2 separate regions of the Homo sapiens genome follow, and region 2 is linked to region 1. The links come from fine-mapping of genetic effects on gene expression. A gene starts in region 1. The other region holds a variant in brackets. All regions are shown on one strand. Distances are between the middles of the regions.

Region 1 (4,351 bases):
GCAAACTCGACCCCCGTTCCTGCCCAGATAATGGCTCAATAACTCTGAGGCTGGTTGCTCAGCCTCTGAGGGCAATACAGGCATTTAAAAAATTAAAATGACCAGGCACAGTGGCTCACGCCTGTAATCTCGGCACTTTGGGAGACTGAGGTGGGAGCATCACTTGAGACCAGGAGTTTGGGACCAGGCTGGGCAACACAGGGAGACCCCCTCTCTACAAAAACATTTTTAAAAAATTAGCTGGGTGTGGTGATGCATGCCTGTGGTCCCAGTTACTTGGGAGGCTGACGTGGGTGGCTCACTTGAGCACAGGAGTTTGAGGCTGCAGTGACCTATGACCACATCACTGTACGCCAGCCCGGGTGAGAGAGGGAGACCCCGTCTCTAAAAATAAAATGTAAAATCACTGAAAAAATGAGTGTTCGGTGAAACAAGTGGGATTTTCTGGGCCAGCAAGTCTTCCAAACTGTATATGATGCATCCTGTCTCCATGTGTAATATATTTTAATGATAAATGTATTTTTAACAGTGGCGGTTGTGTATGTTTTTATGTCTTAAGAGATGGCAGTTCGCTGCAGCTGGATTTTGTGGCTCAAGCCTTGGGGCCAAAGAGACATATTCCTGGCAGTCTGGTGGGTACCAGTCACTATTCACATACTTCCAGCAAGAAATGGTTATGGCACTGACCTGAACCCCTTGACCCCTGGTCTGGTCTTTGGAGTTGTCCCACTCTGAATATTCGAGAGAAGCAGCTTATGGTTAAAACAGGCAGTGGCAGCTGGGAGGATCTAACAGCTAGATCCTCCAGGCATTTGGAAAGGACAGGGGCATAACGAAGGCAGAATCGCTTCCTGGGTACGAATGCCCACTACTTCTGGGCACTGTGAAATGGGTTTAAGACGCGGGCCAGCAGGACAATGTGAACGGTGAAAGGAAGGGAGTGGCCGGTAGGTGGCGCTAACTGGCCCGGGCATGAGTCCCGCCGTAGCCGCGTCCTCTTGCAGGGGAAGAAAGTTGGGACCGCCAGCCTGGGCAAGCGCGTGAGAAGGGAGCTGGGGGTCCTAGGCAAGCGCGTGAGAAGGGGAAGAGGCGGCGGCGTCCTCTCCAGCTGGGCTTAGAATACTCTTAGTTCTGCCTTTGGGGTCTTGTCTTCCTTTCTGGGCCTCCTGCCTGTGTTAACTTTGATGGGTGCTGAAGGGAAGGCCGGGGTCCCGGCAGGAGAAACCCGGGAACGTCGCGGCCGTCCAGGCTCCCCTGGCGGGTTGGAGCCAGGGTTCTGACTGCCAACTGTGGTCCTTCCCGCTGCGGCTGTGGCTGCCAGGGCGAGGGCGGTCAGCGCAAACCTGGCTGAGGACATTTCGGATTCTTCCTTGGGGATTCGTTCCCTTCTCCTTGACTCCGGTGCCGCGAGGGCGACACCCTCCGGGCCCCGCGTGGCCACCCCGGGCGCTTCCCCACGCGGATGAACCCACCTCCTGGGCGCCTTCCCCTCGGTGCCCCGCTCGCCAATTGGAGGCTGCAGCTCAGCCCCCTGACAACCTGAGCCAACCAGAGGCGCCAGGGAGGGGCGGATCCTCTGTCCCCACCTTCCTCCGGAAAGAGGAAGCGGAAGTGACGTTAGGGGAAGGTGGGGGCAATCATGGTGCCGCTGGGGAGGGGAGAAGCTGCTGCTGCCGCCGTTGCCGGGAGCCGCGGAGGTAAAAGGCGAAACTAGACTCGGCCTGGGCTTGGGACTTACCGGGAGGCGCGGGACTTAGGCTCCCTCCTGAAGCATTTCCCAATAGAGACCTCAGTTTGGTCACCATAGGGACCCCACCCCTTCTCCGTTTCCATGGGGATGGGTATCCAGCCCCCCTTCCCTGTTTCCATGGAGACCCGGACCCTGCCCCTCTCCTCCTTGCTTGGAGACCCCCAGCTTGTCTTCGGATTTTTCTGTGTAGCCCTGTGCTGGGGGCTATCCCAGACAGGTTCCTTTTCCCAGCCTCCTCTCAAGGGGGCTCTGTTCGCACTCCTCGTTGGCTACCCTCAAACCTCCTGGTCTTGTTTGTTTCGGACAGTTGGTCTCCGCGTTGCCGCCGAGGGTGCCGGGGCAGCCCACTGGGGCCCTCGGTGCTCTTCTCTCTCTGCTCAGATGCAGCGAAATGTACATCTGTGGGGTTGCGTAAGCCAGAGCTAGGGGTCGGGCCGGTACCTCCCGGATCCAATCCTTTGGCCTGTCTCTGGTAACTGTCTAGCCATCCCACTAAGTAAAGGCTCACTTTCTAACCCAGAGCAGAAGAGAAAGATAAAGCGCAAAGCCAGACTGAAAACTAAAAGGGATGTGCTGATTATTTTAAAATTCTCTATTCTGCCTGCCAAACCCACATTTGTAGAGCCTGTGTTTGCAGATGAAGGAAGAATCACTATTCCAGAACATGAAAGCTTCAAATGTGGTATTTTTCTCAAGAGAATGTATCTTCCCAAGATAGTATATCTTCACGAGAGAGTAGGTAGCCATGTCTTTCAGTCATTTAGCTGACATTTCCTGAACTCTTATCATAGTATCAGTGTACTATGCTAGGAGCTGTAGAAACAAAAATAATAAGACTCAATTGATTCAGGGACGAGAGCCCACCACAGAACCATAACTTCTTGTTGACACCATATTGTTTTAGGACATAAATAGATACAGTGATCTTCGTTGTTTGTGCCTGATTGAGGAATAGCCCTTCCACCCAGAAGGTTGAAACATCTGTTCTAGGTAGGGGGGAAGGAATTCATACTTGTTCCTCTACTATTTACCAAACATTGTGCTTTACATATGTTGCCTCTTTTATTTCTTATAAAAACTTTGAGAGAACAGGAATTACTGGTCCCACCTTGCACGTAAGAAAAATGAGGCACAGAAAAGTTACCCATGTAGTAAAAGGCAAAGACAGGATTTGTAGGTAGATGACTCTGCCTCCAAAGCCTTGCTCCTTCTACCATAAACTGCATGAAACCATTTACTGCCTCGTGGTCTGATTTGGAGGATATTTGAATGGATGGAGTTTCCCTTAAGATTTGTAGCAACTCAGCCTTTCAGCAGCTGCTGTTCTGTTTGCTCTTTTGTCCCCTTTAAATATTTTGACCAAGTTTCAAATTGTTTGACAGGCGTATTCAGAAGGTCTTATGAACTTATTCAGTTTTTGAAAAGCATTGCTTTTCTTTCTTTTTCTTTTTTTTTTTTTTTTATTAGAGATGGGGGTCTCACTATGTTGACCAGGCTGATCTCAAACTCCTGGCCTCAAGCGATCCTCCCATCTTAGCCTCCCAAAGTGTTGGGATTACAGGTGTGAGCCACCACGCCCAGTCGGCATTGCTTTTCTTTAAAAATGACTTGATGGTTTTAAAGTTAAAATAAAAAAATTATTCCCAAGGATGGTTTTTCATTTGCTTTGGCTTGCTCTTTAAGTGAGAGGGAAAATGAGCCTTGTGGTTGCTGAGGAGGTCCGTCGGTCTTGTGGTATGACTCTAACTCTGGCTTTGTTCTGTTGCAGACAAGTCATTACGTTTTCATTTCTCACAACTGGGCTGAGCACAACTGAACCATGGGGGAACACAGTCCAGACAACAACATCATCTACTTTGAGGCAGAGGAAGATGAGCTGACCCCCGATGATAAAATGCTCAGGTTTGTGGATAAAAACGGACTGGTGCCTTCCTCATCTGGAACTGTTTATGATAGGACCACTGTTCTTATTGAGCAGGACCCTGGCACTTTGGAGGATGAAGATGACGACGGACAGTGCGGAGAACACTTGCCTTTTCTAGTAGGGGGTGAAGAGGGCTTTCACCTGATAGATCATGAAGCAATGTCCCAGGGTTATGTGCAGCACATTATCTCACCAGATCAGATTCATTTGACAATAAACCCTGGTTCCACACCCATGCCAAGAAATATTGAAGGTGCAACCCTCACTCTGCAGTCGGAATGTCCGGAAACAAAACGTAAAGAAGTAAGTAAAGCAGTCAGTGAGGGCCTAGTTTGGTTTTGGGGCAAGTCCTTACAAAATTCTTGGTGCAAATTTTAGCTGGGGAGTAAAGGAGTGCATGGGGTTAGGACTTAAGTAGTTTTGCTATCAACAACATATGCCTCAGGTTTTGTTGTGATTGCTTCTGGAACTTTTGGTTTGTATAGCCACATTGAAATTTGGGAATATCAAATTGTAATTTCTCGAATTTCCTTCCCCAAATCATAAATAAAACAGAAATTTCACTTAAGTAGACCCATGTTTCTGGTGCTAAAATAACTATTTAGCTTATCTACAGGGAAATAACTGGAGTTTGCTTATTTGATGAAGAAATAACTATATTTGGCTTATCTCCTGGT
Region 2 (4,391 bases), 210 kb after region 1:
CAAGGCCAAGGGCAGCACTGCTACTACTGCGTTTTACCTGTTGCTCATCTACAGTGTTTGCAGCTTTTTGCCCACCCTCTTCCTACTCTTGAAGGAGGAGCCAGAGGCTTCTGTGAGGTACTGGGGCTGGAGTCGAGAACTGCAGATGGAAGCGGGAGAGAAGAAAGAGGCTCCCACCTGGCTTCTCACCCACGACCTACTGCTGGGTGGGAGGAGAAGGTGAGAAATAACCATTTATTGAGCATCTACTGTGTGCCAGACACTGCATCAGGGCCACAAGTTAGCATGCATGTACCAGAAGGTAAACTCCATGAGGGCGGAGATTATTCTGTTTTGTTCACTGCTGTAACCTTAGTGCCTAGCACATGGTAAGAGCTCAATAAATATATGCGGAATAAATGAATTTCTACCTGTTATTCTCATCATAACTCTATGAGGCAGGTATAATTATTATCACCATGTTACATGATTTTCAGCTGAGACTCAGAGAGGTTAAGTGACTTGCTCAATGTCACACAGCCAGGTAAGTGGCAGAGCTGGGCCTGTCTGGCTGTAAAGCCCTTGCTCTGACCACTGCACTCTTGAGCAGGCCCAGATGACCACAGCTACTCCGTGTGTGTGTGTGTGTGTGTGTGTGTGTGTGTGTGTGTGCAGCTGTCCTGGCATGGGAGTATCACATCTTAGAGGCTCAGTGACTACACAAGTCCCATGGTTACAAGTAGAAACTGTCATGTGTTCTTGTGCCTCAGTGTGCTCAATAAATATTAACTGAATAGCCACAGCTTCTCAGAGATGATAAAAAAGGAAGAAATATTAATTGAATAAATGAAATAAGCGGATGAGCGAATAAGTGCTTCCATGCTAGCTCACAGATACCCTGGTTGTGTTTAGAGGGGCTGGGTGATTAGAAGATAGGGTCTTCAGCTGGGCATTGGACACCTGGGTTCTAATCCCTAAGTTGTAGTGTGACTTTGGCTGAGTCACCACCCCTCACTGGGCCTGGGTCCCTCCTCATTGAGGTAGATGAGAGCTGATGGTCAGGTGTTTCTCAAGGCCCTTCCAGCTCGGCCACCTCAAGTGCTCAGGGTGTGAGGCTTCCCAGTTATGGGCTCCACAGTCAGGGTGAAGTTGGTTCTTGTTTTCTGGGAAGGGGAGGGGATGTGGTGGGGAATCTGAGTATGCTTATTCTACATATTCTATAGAATGAAGTCTGACTCTGGCTCAGCATCCAAGGCCTTCCACAATGCAGTCTCAGTCCAACTGCTTCCCCTCATCCTATGCAACACATAGACACACTTATTCTCTCTCTCTCTCTCTCTTAGACACTGGGCAGAACAACAGCTTAGCAAGGAAAAGGGGCTTGAGACTTGTACCAGCTGCCTGTCACTGACCTGGGCTTTACCCCCAGCAACTCCACATGATGGAGGAAGCACAGGATATAAATCCAGGCTTGACCACTACAATCAGTGTGCTCACGGGCAAGTCGCTTAGCCTCTATGTGCCTCTGTTTTCTCATCAGCAAAATGGAAATGGTGATACTTTCTATCTTGGTGAGACTTTGCTCAAAAGAAGTGACAGTGTCCATCAAGTGCACTTTTGTTATGTGAGCCTGGAGAAAACTTTATTAGAAATCTACTTTGTGGCTGGGTGAGGTGGCTCATGTCCATAGTCCCAGAACTTTGAGAGGCCGAGGCAGGAGGATTGCTTGAGTCCAGGAGTTCGAGACCAGCCTGGGCAACATGGCAAAACCCTGTCTCTACAAAAAATATAAAATTAGCCGGATATGGTGGACTATGAGCCTGTAGTCCCAGCTACTTGAGAGGCTGAGGTGGGAGGATGGCTTGAGCCTGGAAGGTTGAGGCTGCAGTGAGCTGTGATCACACCACTGCATTCCAGCCTGGCGACAGAGCGAGACCCTGTCTCAAAAATCAAAACAAAACAGCTGGGCATGGTGGCTCACACCTGTAATCCCAGCACTTTGGGAGGCCAAGGCGGGTGGATCACCTGAGGTCGGGAGTTCGAGATCAGCCTAACCAACATGGTGAAACCCCGTCTCTACTAAAAATACAAAATTAGCTGGGCATGGTGGCACATGCCTGTAATCCCAGCTACTCGGGAGGCTGAGGCAGGAGAATTGCTTGAACCCGTGAGGCAGAGGTTGCAATGAGCCAAGATTGTGCCATTGCACTCCAGCCTGGGCAACAAGAGCAAAACTCCATCTCAAAAAAATAAAAGACATGACTTTGTGGTCAGACCTCTGACAAAGATCTGAAAGAGAAGAAGCCCAAGATACAGTTGCTACCTACTTTTTTTTTCTTTCTTGAGACAGGGTCTTGCTTTGTCACCCAGGCTATGGATCTTCCACCTCCTAGGTTCAAGTGATCCTTCCACCTCAGCCTCCCAAGTAACTGGAACAACAGGTACACACCACCACACCTGGATAATTTATTTTATTTCTTATACAGACAGAGTCTCGCCATGTTGGTTTTGCACTCCTGGCCTCAAGCAACTTCCTGCCTTGGCCTCCCAAAGCGCTGGGATTCCATG[C/T]GTGTGCCACCGGGTCCAGCCTGCTGCCTACTTTTTGAGACTCGTGGTTTACCCGGGAGAATGGATGCATACTTAGGAATCCTGTGGGATGGAATAATGTAATCTCAGATAAAAAGCAAACAACAGGTTGGAGGAAATAGTTACAATTAACACGACAAGCAAATAGTTAATATTCTTGCCATATAACAATCTTACACAACTTAAGGGGTAAAAACCCCACAGAGACCCCAGTACATTAATGGGGTCTCGTGATATAGACAATGAGGGCAAATAATATGGATAGCAAAATCTACAAGCCAGAAATTATACATATGTAGTGGTGGGTATTTGTAAAACATATTTCATCTCATCGATAATCAAAGAAGTGCAAATTATTATTTTATTATTATTATTATTATTATTATTATTATTATTATTATTATTGAGACAGAGTCTCACTCTGTTGCCCAGGCTGGAGTGCAGTGGCACAATCTCGGCTCACTGCAACCTCCGCCTCTCAGGTTCAAGTGATTCTCCTGCCTCAGCCTCCTGAGTAGCTGGGATTTCAGGCACCCACCACCATGCCCGGCTAACTTTTGTATTTTTAGTAGAGACAGAGTTTTGCCATGTTGGCCAGGGTGGTCTTGAACTTCGAGCCTCAAGAGATCCCCCTACCTTGGCCTCCCAAAGTGCTGGGATTACAGGCGTGAGCCACCACACCCGGCAGAAGTGCAAATTAAAGTAACAATAACATTTCTGTCTTTTTTCTTTATCGAGAATCCCCAGTGTAGGTACTATCATAGTGAAAAAGGCAAGCTCGTATACTGCCACTGTTTTCAGTCATTAGTTTGATATTTATCAGGCACATACTACAGGCTGGACACTGTTTCGGAGGCTGCAGAGCATGTTTGCAGTGTGGACAAAAAGCCTTGAAAAGTACTCAGAGCAGCACTGCAAAAAGAAGTCGAGTTTACGGCACTAACCATGGACAAGGCTGAGCCGGGTGGTATTAACAGTTCACACAGGCCGGGTGCAGTGGCTCACGCCTGTAATGCCAGCACTTTGGGAGGCCGAGGTGGGCAGATCACGATGACAGGAGATCGAGACCATCCTGGCTAACACGGTGAAACGCTGTCTCTACTAAAAATACAAAAAATTAGCCGGGCGTGGTGGCAGGTGCCTGTAATCCCAGCTACTCGGGAGGCTGAGGCAGGACAATGGCGTGAACTCGGGAGGCGGAGCTTGCAGTGAGCCGAGATCGCGCCACTGCACTCCAGCCTGGGAGATGGAGCGAGACTCTATTTCAAAAAAAAACAAAAAACAAAAAACAGTTCACACAGATGTGGATCCAAACCCAGAGGCTGCCACTGGAGTCTGGGCCACCTTAGGGGAGCTGCTTAATTGGCCAAGCCCTCTATCTCCTTGTCTGTACAATGGGGATAATAATGTACCCCAATGCTCACAGCGTTGTCGTGAGCACAAAGTAAAACAACAAGTATAAAAGGCTAGGACTAAAGTGAATTCTTGGCCAGGTGTGGTGACTCATGCCTGTAATGCCAGCACTCTGGGAGGCTGAGGCGGGTGGATCACCTGAAGTCAGGAGTTTGAGACCAGCTGGGCCAACATGGTAAAACCCCGTCTCTATTAAAAATACAAAAATTAGCCAGGTATGGTGGTGGGTGCCTGAAATTCCAGCTATTTGGGAGGCTGAGGCAGGAGAATGGCTTGAACCCGGGAGGTGGAGGTTGCAGTGAGCGACATCGTGCCACTGCACTCCAGCCTGGGTGACAGAGCAAGACTCTGTCTAAAATAACAATAATAATAAATAAATAAAAAGTGAACCCCTGAATAATAATGTTTATTTT

Which allele goes with the higher level. Alleles are on the strand shown, and positions count from the first base shown. SD is a standard deviation of normalised expression in the study named.
With allele T in place of C in region 2, the expression in prefrontal cortex of the gene that starts at base 1,636 in region 1 is lower (moderate effect, 0.69 SD a copy in ROSMAP).

The links. PIP is the estimated chance that this variant, and not a neighbour inherited with it, causes the effect. A credible set is the group of variants that fine-mapping cannot tell apart.
Region 2: its variant is the best candidate, but not a certain one, in a credible set for the expression of MTF1 in prefrontal cortex (ROSMAP, PIP 0.51).

Annotation. Positions count from the first base shown.
Region 1 is chr1:37,856,877-37,861,227 of GRCh38, reverse strand. It overlaps MTF1 (metal regulatory transcription factor 1), which reads left to right and starts at 1,636. Exons shown (of 11, transcript NM_005955.3): 1 at 1,636-1,697; 2 at 3,519-3,977. The coding sequence starts at 3,570. It overlaps INPP5B (inositol polyphosphate-5-phosphatase B), which reads left to right. Exons shown (of 24, transcript NM_005540.3): 24 at 1-531. RefSeq lists a silencer at 1,370-1,699.
Region 2 is chr1:37,645,664-37,650,054 of GRCh38, reverse strand. No RefSeq gene overlaps it. Among named protein-coding and RNA genes, the nearest start is that of RSPO1, 13 kb to the right of the region's middle. The variant C/T (reference allele first, on the strand shown) is at 2,548.